3 linked regions of the Homo sapiens genome follow. The protein of the gene in region 1 purifies or fractionates together with the protein of each later gene. This does not show direct contact. Each region holds a gene or a part of one and is shown in the gene's direction. Other genes may lie near its edges. The genes, in order: NLRP10, ATG2B and NETO2.

Region 1 (2,866 bases):
GACCATCCTGGCTAACACGGTGAAACCCCGTCTCTACTAAAAATACAAAAAAATTAGCCGGGCATGGTGGCGTGCGCCTGTGGTCCCAGCTACACGGGAGGCTGAGGCAGGAGAATGGCGTGAACCCGGGAGGCGGAGCTTGCAGTGAGTCGAGATCGCGCCACTGCACTCCAGCCTGGGCGACAGAGCGAAACTCCATCTCAAAAAAAAAAAAAAAAAAAAAAGAACAGGCTTATCTTAGTCCCTTTGGTATTGCTATAAAGCAATACCTGAGACTGGGTAATTTATAAAGAAAAGAGGTTTATTTGGCTCATGGTTTGGCAGGTGGTACAAGAGGCATATTGTCAACATTGACTTCTGGCGAGGCCTCAGGCAGCTTTCAGTTATGGAAGAAGGCAAGGTCAGAGCTGGTGTGTCACATGGCAAGAGAGGGAGGAAGAGAGAGGGGAGGAGGTGCCAGGCTCTTTAAACAACCAGCTCTTGTGTAGCTAATAGAGCAAGAACTCGTTCATTACCGTGGGGAGGGCCCCAAGACATTCATGAGGGATTTGCCCCCATGACAAAAACAACTCCCACTAGGCCCTGCCTCCAACATTGGGGATCACATTTCAACCTGAAATTTGGAGGGGATAAACACCCAAACTATATCAAGGCTCCTATCACTTCACCATCCTCAGGCATCCCTTTCCTTTCCCCTCTCTCTGTCCTCACCTCTTCACATGGAGACATTTCACATGAACACTCAGACATTCATGCATTCTCACACAGGCATTTTGCACTTACATGTATTCTTACAGACACACACTTGCTGATGCACACTGACATGACTTCCCTCCACAACAGTACATGAAGGTCCACGAGCACATGTGGATACCAGCATTCATGCACAACTATCCACACACACAGAGCACACCCTTGCACACTCATACAGATGTGCATATGCATACTGCGCCTGCACACACACACTCATGCACACATACAGTGGCCCCTCCCCATGAAGCCAGAACTATAATCTCAGCAAGATCCAAGTTGGAGACATACAAGAAGACTAATGAGCAGAGTCAGTTTGGAGGGGCCATTTTGCCTTCTAAAATTCCCATTTCACTACCTAACATCCCATTTGTTTGGCTCAGATTACAGAGAAGTATACCGAGAGCATGTGCGCTGCCTAGAGGAATGGCAGGAAGCAGGAGTCAATGGCAGATACAACCAGGTGCTCCTGGTGGCCAAGCCCAGCTCAGAGAGCCCAGAATCACTTGCCTGCCCCTTCCCGGAGCAGGAGCTGGAGTCTGTCACGGTGGAGGCTCTATTTGATTCAGGGGAAAAGCCCTCACTGGCCCCATCCTTAGTTGTGCTACAGGGGTCGGCTGGCACTGGAAAGACAACTCTCGCCAGAAAAATGGTGTTGGACTGGGCCACCGGTACTCTGTACCCAGGCCGGTTTGATTATGTCTTTTATGTAAGCTGCAAAGAAGTGGTCCTGCTGCTGGAGAGCAAACTGGAGCAGCTCCTTTTCTGGTGCTGCGGGGACAATCAAGCCCCTGTCACAGAGATTCTGAGGCAGCCAGAGCGGCTCCTGTTCATCCTGGATGGCTTTGATGAGCTGCAGAGGCCCTTTGAAGAAAAGTTGAAGAAGAGGGGTTTGAGTCCCAAGGAGAGCCTGCTGCACCTTCTAATTAGGAGACATACACTCCCCACGTGCTCCCTTCTCATCACCACCCGGCCCCTGGCTTTGAGGAATCTGGAGCCCTTGCTGAAACAAGCACGTCATGTCCATATCCTAGGCTTCTCTGAGGAGGAGAGGGCGAGGTACTTCAGCTCCTATTTCACGGATGAGAAGCAAGCTGACCGTGCCTTCGACATTGTACAGAAAAATGACATTCTCTACAAAGCGTGTCAGGTTCCAGGCATTTGCTGGGTGGTCTGCTCCTGGCTGCAGGGGCAGATGGAGAGAGGCAAAGTTGTCTTAGAGACACCTAGAAACAGCACTGACATCTTCATGGCTTACGTCTCCACCTTTCTGCCGCCCGATGATGATGGGGGCTGCTCCGAGCTTTCCCGGCACAGGGTCCTGAGGAGTCTGTGCTCCCTAGCAGCTGAAGGGATTCAGCACCAGAGGTTCCTATTTGAAGAAGCTGAGCTCAGGAAACATAATTTAGATGGCCCCAGGCTTGCCGCTTTCCTGAGTAGTAACGACTACCAATTGGGACTTGCCATCAAGAAGTTCTACAGCTTCCGCCACATCAGCTTCCAGGACTTTTTTCATGCCATGTCTTACCTGGTGAAAGAGGACCAAAGCCGGCTGGGGAAGGAGTCCCGCAGAGAAGTGCAAAGGCTGCTGGAGGTAAAGGAGCAGGAAGGGAATGATGAGATGACCCTCACTATGCAGTTTTTACTGGACATCTCGAAAAAAGACAGCTTCTCGAACTTGGAGCTCAAGTTCTGCTTCAGAATTTCTCCCTGTTTAGCGCAGGATCTGAAGCATTTTAAAGAACAGATGGAATCTATGAAGCACAACAGGACCTGGGATTTGGAATTCTCCCTGTATGAAGCTAAAATAAAGAATCTGGTAAAAGGTATTCAGATGAACAATGTATCATTCAAGATAAAACATTCAAATGAAAAGAAATCACAGAGCCAGAATTTATTTTCTGTCAAAAGCAGCTTGAGTCATGGACCTAAGGAGGAGCAAAAATGTCCTTCTGTCCATGGACAGAAGGAGGGCAAAGATAATATAGCAGGAACACAAAAGGAAGCTTCTACTGGAAAAGGCAGAGGGACAGAGGAAACACCAAAAAATACTTACATATAAACCTAATTAAATATGTACAAGATCTCTATGAGGAAAATGACAACACTCTGAGGA
Region 2 (2,485 bases), on another chromosome or scaffold:
GATTTTAGTCCCTCTATTAGTTATCCTATCCCTGCAATAAGGACTTGCAGCAAACACACCTCCTAGTTTGATATCACGAAACTGATAACTATTTGGAGGAGTATTTTTACTTATGAAGGGAATATTTAAAAGACATACTTATTTTTATTTTATTTATTTATTTTTTCAGACGGAGCTTTGCTCTTGTTGCCCAGGCTGGAGTACAATGGAGCAATCTTAGCTCACTGCAGCCTCCACCTCCTGGGTTCAAGCGATTCTCTTGCCTCAGCCTCCTGAGTAGTTGGGATTACAGGCACCTGCCACCACGCCCCACAAATTTTTTGTTTTTTTAGTAGAGACGAGGTTTCACCGTGTTGGCCAGGTTAACCTCAGCCTGGTCTCGAACTCTTGACCTCAGCCTCCAAAAATGCTGGGATTACAGGCATGAGCCACCGTGCCTGGCCAGACATACTTATTTTTAAGGGCAATTTACTTTAAAAGATTTTGTTGTGACAGATGTGACTATATAACATCCACTTTGAACAATTAGGGAAAAAATGACAAGTCACACTTCACCCATGGCTCTTGTTGAAAAAAGGGATGGGGACAATTGTGAGATGCTTACTGTGTGCCAAGTATCCTACTGTCTTTTTATAATTTCACAGCCCCCACTCAGAGGCAGTTACTAGAGTCCCTGTTTTCCAGATGAGGAGACAGGTTCAGAGAGGTCAAGAAACTTGCTCACCGTCACATGGTTTGACTTCCAGACCTCATGCTCTTCCCAGGACTTCATTTAAGAAAAGCTTGGAGCAGTTACCTAACTTAGCAAAAAGTCTTCACTAATTGGGAAACCACAGAATTTTGCTAGAAGATTGAGATTAAAGGCTCTTAGAATATTTGAGCAAGAAAATGTGCTTGATCTCTTCCTGGCGTCTCCAGCCCCTCTCCCCTCTTCTGGCTGTGCTTAGCCACCCCAGCGGTTCAGTTCTGCATGCCCGTGAGTAGGGGTTAGCACCACCTGGAAGATTTCTTTCTATAAATGCTGCACCACAGGCCACAGTCAACACTGATTAAAGCAAAATCTCAGAATGGGGCTAAAGTCGGGTTTCTCCACCTCAGCAGTTGACATTTGGGACCAGCCTGTGCATTGTAGGATGCAGGGGATGTTGCCACCCTCCCACCCCCCGCTGGCCTCTGGCCACTGGATGCCAGTAACAAACTCCCCTCCCCCAGTTGTGACAGCCAAAGACGTCTCCAGACATGGCCAAATATGCCAAATATGACAAAAATCCCCTGTTAAAAATCACTGGGCTAAGAGCTCTCCTGGGGAAAATCATGCACAGCCTGGGGCAAGAACGCGCTATGGCCGCCCCAACTCGGATGCTCTGTCGGGATCTCTGGCTGCTCCTGCTGTCTCAGCCCGGAGGCTCCACTTCAGGCAGCCTGGCCACCCTCCCTTCCTCTCTGTTTCCCACTATAGCATGCTTTCCTTTTTTTTGTTTGTTAAACTTTGCGGCACTCCCCGCATACTGTAGATCCACGTCTGTTTCCCTGTTTGACTTCCTTCAGGAGGGCAAGGGACTTAGGGACCCGGTGCCTAGCACAGTGCCTTGCCCAGAGTCAGGGATCAGCAAATGGTGAATGAGTGAATGAATGAATGAATGAGTGAGTGAACCCGAGTGGTCATCTAGTCCTGTCTGCAGGTGAGGAAATCGAAGCCCGGAGAGGGGAAATTCTTTGCCCAAGATCACATGATTACTACTTACAGATGTCCTTTATTCAATGTAAGCTCACGTTTTCTTGATTTTAGCAATACTTGTAATAATTTTTAAAATATAAATATATATGAAATAAAAGTTCATCATTGATTGACTATTTCCTATGTGGCGACTCCTCTGCTTGGCACTCGACAACACTCTTGGCCACTGTGTCATGGTTCCCAAACTTGTCTGCACATTAGTCCCCTGGGGAGCTTTAAAAATACACCCCAGGGATTGGGATTTAGCTGGTCTTTGGTGTGGGCTGCGCTTTGGCATTTTTGAGAGATCCCCTGGTTCTCATGTGCAGACAAGTTCTGAGACCCAGTGTATTACACTGCCCTGCCTCATTCACCAGGGCAGGGGGACATTCACATTCAGTATCAGCCAGGGTATGTAACATTCACATTCAGTATCAGTATTGACAATGTAACATTCACATTCAGTATCAGCCAGGGTCCCAGCAAGAGATGTGACCACTCCATGTGACAGACAGGTGCTAGGAAGGAAATACTCAGCACATGGTGGGCAGCACAGGGTAAGGGAAGCCCACAGGCACCTCGTGGCTGTCTCTGAGCCAAGTGAAGACTTGGTAGCTCTTCTCTAATCCCCTCTCAGCTCTGGGCCTGCCCTGGCCTCAAAGTCATGTGAGCCAATGGCCATTCCTCACCTTTTGTGGCTCTCCTTGTGGGAATGGGATTAGGATGCCCCTCCTTCTTCATCCATCTCTCAAGAGACTGAACACCAGG
Region 3 (3,661 bases), on another chromosome or scaffold:
TAAAAAATTCACTTTTAGCTGTGATCACTCTAGGCCTCACAGAATTCGAGTTAATCTTCTGTCAAGGTTAACTAAGCATTATAGTCTCATGAAAATATTACATGAGGATTATAAATCCATTTTTTGTTCTTATTCTGCACACTTGCTTCAGGAGAATCTGTTCGACTCAGCAATATTTCAAGCTGTAGAAACTGGTTAAATTTGTAATGTAACAGCAAAAATATTCCTTGGCACTGTATTTAAAAATCTTGTCTGAGACGGTGCAAGTATTAACTCGTTTTTCATTCTTACATTTCACCCAGGACTATAAACTAGTTATACAGAAATAAGTGTGGTACTGAAAAACTTGTCCTTTAATACTAAAGCCTTATTAAAAATCAACTTTTTGGCTTTTCCTTCCAGGGGTTGGGAAAAACTGTTTTAACACTGTCAATTGAAAAGTCTTATTAAATAATGGTTTTTTTGTAGTAAATCCTCAACTGCAATCTGGTTTATCTTTCATTTTGAAATTAAAATCACTATTTAGGAAAAACCCTGCATGACAAAACAAGTTGAAATCAAAGCCATTTTCAGTCCTTTTTAGAAAAGATAGAAAAATGATAGACTAGAAATAAAGTTCATATCTGAAATTTTAAAACAATAGACTACCTCCTTCTCTTGGGGTACCACCCATCCAGCACAATCTCCTATCATTTTTCAACTTACGCTCCTGTAGAATAATTATTTATACTTAGAAATACGTCTCCCTGAGGCACTGGAGATTGAAATTATTATGATCTTTGAGTTGGAAAGGAGCATCTTAAGAGGTGGTCTAATCCAATGGTTTCCAAACTTCAGAGGAACTTTTGTGAGGAAGCACTTGAAAAAAAAAGGAAAAAGGACAACAGAACAGAGTTGCTGTGATTGGTGGGAGGCCTTGCCCTCTCAGTCACCTCAAACACCAGGGTGGCTCCAAGAACTGACACTTCAACGGGTTTGTTATATTGCTTCCAAAATTACAGGGTATACTAATCTGAAAGTTCAGTCCTTTCTAATCAAAATGACATTAAGACATGTTGGTTTAAATATGCCTGGAGTAACATTGGAAATTACAGCACTAGAAGATACCAAGTAGTCTTTCAAATATGACCTGATCATGTTAGAAGGTGATGGTAGTCACTGTACAGTCAGGAGGACTGATGTGTAATTAAAATACAGCTTACAAAAGCGCCATCTCAGATCAGCTCGACTAAGGAGGAGTTTGTCACATTCTGCAGGAAAGAGAAAGCACTTCTGCTATAGAGTTACTCTTTCTTACTAAAGTGATTGGCATGTCATTAGCATATGTAGGCTGGAGTGATCCCAAAGTTCACCATCCATCTTTGTTCTTAACTAGTAAAGTATGATTGAGTTTGATTAAATTTGGGTACTTTTTTTGTTCTTTGGAACATAGTTTATCAAAAACAAGTGACTGCCATGTCAAATAGTATGTGGACTCTAATTGAACTCTGTTCTGCTGTCATTATAGGAAATGGTAATGAGCAGAGAGACCAGGTAGGTGGTTCTCTGTGTTGGATTTTAAAAGCTTTATGTTTACCACTGAGTTGCTTAACACAGGAAGATGTAGAAAGAGACACACTTAATTACTAACAAAGGTAAATTGAGCCAGCTTGAGGAAAATAACAGTGGTGGCAGGGTATCTCAGGAGGGTGGGGGGGAATCTCAGTTCTTTTCCCATCCCCTGATTTGTGCTCGCATTTAAAAAAGCAAGGTCACATGTGTGGCTACTGTTTGTTCATCCAAGATGTGTGCCTGTCAGTTACTGTGCTATGTGTTTGCGGTTACAAAGAAGATGCACTGGAGTCGCGCTCAGTCACCCCCATGTGTTCATCGTGTCTGTATTGAATACTGTTGAGGCCAGACAGTCTTTTAGGCTGTGGAGATGCATCAGTGAATCAGACAGACAAGGCCCTTCTTTCTAGTGAGAAGAGACAGACAACCAACAAGACTCAAAATACCAGGTAATATAATAATGAAGTAAAGCAAAATGAAGGAGAAAATGTAGCGCTTATTTAGAAATTGGGAAAGCCTCACAAGACCTGAACAACAGGAAGGAATCAGCCAAAGAGATTCTAGGCCGAAGGCACAGCTGGTTCCTGAGGCAAGAATTAGCTTGATGTGTTTTGAGTGATGGGAAGGCGGCCTGTGTTCTAGTAGAGAGCGCTCGGAAGGCCAGAGAGACACGCAGGCTCCAGGTCACATAGTACCTCCGAAGTCAGAGTAAGGGGCACAGAGTTGTTCTAACTATAATGGGACTCTACTGGAAGATTTTAAGCAAGGCTGTGATGTGATCTGATTTGTATTTTGAAAAGGTCACTGGCTGCTGTGTACATAATACACTATAGGGACTGTGGCAGAAACTTCCAGTTGTCTAGAAATGTCCATTTAACTATTTGTCAGTAATTCTCTGAATTTAACTGAGCGCACAGTTCCCCAAAATGAAGACTATTTACCAGTTTCCTGTTGGTTTAGGTGACCATGTGACTAAGTCTAGCCAGTTAGATATAAGTAGAAAATGATGTGTGCAACTTAGGGGAATTGTTGTTTTTGTTGTTTAAACTTTTATTTTGAAATCATTGTAGATTATGGGCAAGTGTTTTTGTTTTGTTTTGTTTGAGATGGAGTCTTGCTCTGTCACCCAGGCTGGAGTGCAGTGGCACGATCTTGGCGCACCACAACCTCTGCCTCCCAGGTTCAAGCGATTCTCCTGCCTCAGCCTCCCCAGTAGCTGGGACTACAGGCGTGTGCCACCATGCCCGGCTAATTTTTGTATTTTTATTAGAGACGGGGTTTCACCATATTGTTCAGGCTGGTCTTGAACTTCTGACCTCATGACCCGCCCACCTCAGCCTCGCAAAGTGCTGGGATTACAGGCGTGAGTCACCGCGCCTGGCCCTGGGCAAGTGTTTTTAAAGAAAGAGAGAATGCCCTTTATCAAGTCATCATTCTTGATAACTAGAATGCAGACATGGGAGCTATAATGAAGATAGAATAGCTGGCACTCCAGCCTCATACTGGACCATAGGGTGACCTTGGAAATGAGCCTCTCACAGCTGGGTAGTGAGACAGAAGGAACCCAGGTCCTGGTATTTATAGAGCCTTCACTCTGATGCTTGACTCCCTATGTCCAGCTTGTTCGCATGACAGAGCAATGTATTTCTATCTTGTTTTAAACTGTTAGTTTAGGTATTTCTGTTACTCATGCCAAACCTAATGCTAACATAGAAGTGTGCAAAATCAGTATAAGAACAAAAAAATTAAAAAACAGATGGAGAGCTGTTGAATGATCAGAAGTGAAAAGTCTGAATGCAGTCAAGTAAAATTAATCTGGAAAGGGTTCCTGGAGAAAGCAGGTTTTAGAAAATGTACTTTCATGGAAGCAAAGAGGTCCAAGGTCCCTGGCAAGTGCAGATGTTCAGAAACAAGAAGTATTTGTTGGAGCCCTTATAAGAATAGATAGTAGAGCCTTCACCTCAAGTTCAACGTTTCCAAAATCGACTCAACTCCTTTTCGCCCACCCCTGCCCTGCCCAATCCATATTGGTCCAAACATGTCTCCTGCCACTACCAAAGGAGGGAAAAGGCCACCTCTCACTGTTGCTTTCAGTAATCTGCCATGCTCC

Evidence for each region.
Region 2: the proteins of NLRP10 (region 1) and ATG2B purify together in Homo sapiens (affinity purification with mass spectrometry; one large-scale study listed by BioGRID and IntAct). This does not show direct contact.
Region 3: the proteins of NLRP10 (region 1) and NETO2 purify together in Homo sapiens (affinity purification with mass spectrometry; one large-scale study listed by BioGRID and IntAct). This does not show direct contact.

Annotation. Positions count from the first base shown.
Region 1 is NC_000011.10:7,959,590-7,962,455, reverse strand, and holds part of NLRP10 (NACHT, LRR and PYD domains-containing protein 10), read left to right. Parts: intron 1-1,133; coding exon 1,134-2,812; 3' UTR 2,813-2,866.
Region 2 is NC_000014.9:96,278,564-96,281,048, reverse strand, and holds the end of ATG2B (autophagy-related protein 2 homolog B), read left to right. Parts: 3' UTR 1-1,854; downstream 1,855-2,485. UniProt on the Homo sapiens protein: Lipid transfer protein required for both autophagosome formation and regulation of lipid droplet morphology and dispersion.
Region 3 is NC_000016.10:47,137,393-47,141,053, reverse strand, and holds part of NETO2 (neuropilin and tolloid-like protein 2 isoform 1 precursor), read left to right. Parts: intron 1-3,661. UniProt on the Homo sapiens protein: Accessory subunit of neuronal kainate-sensitive glutamate receptors, GRIK2 and GRIK3.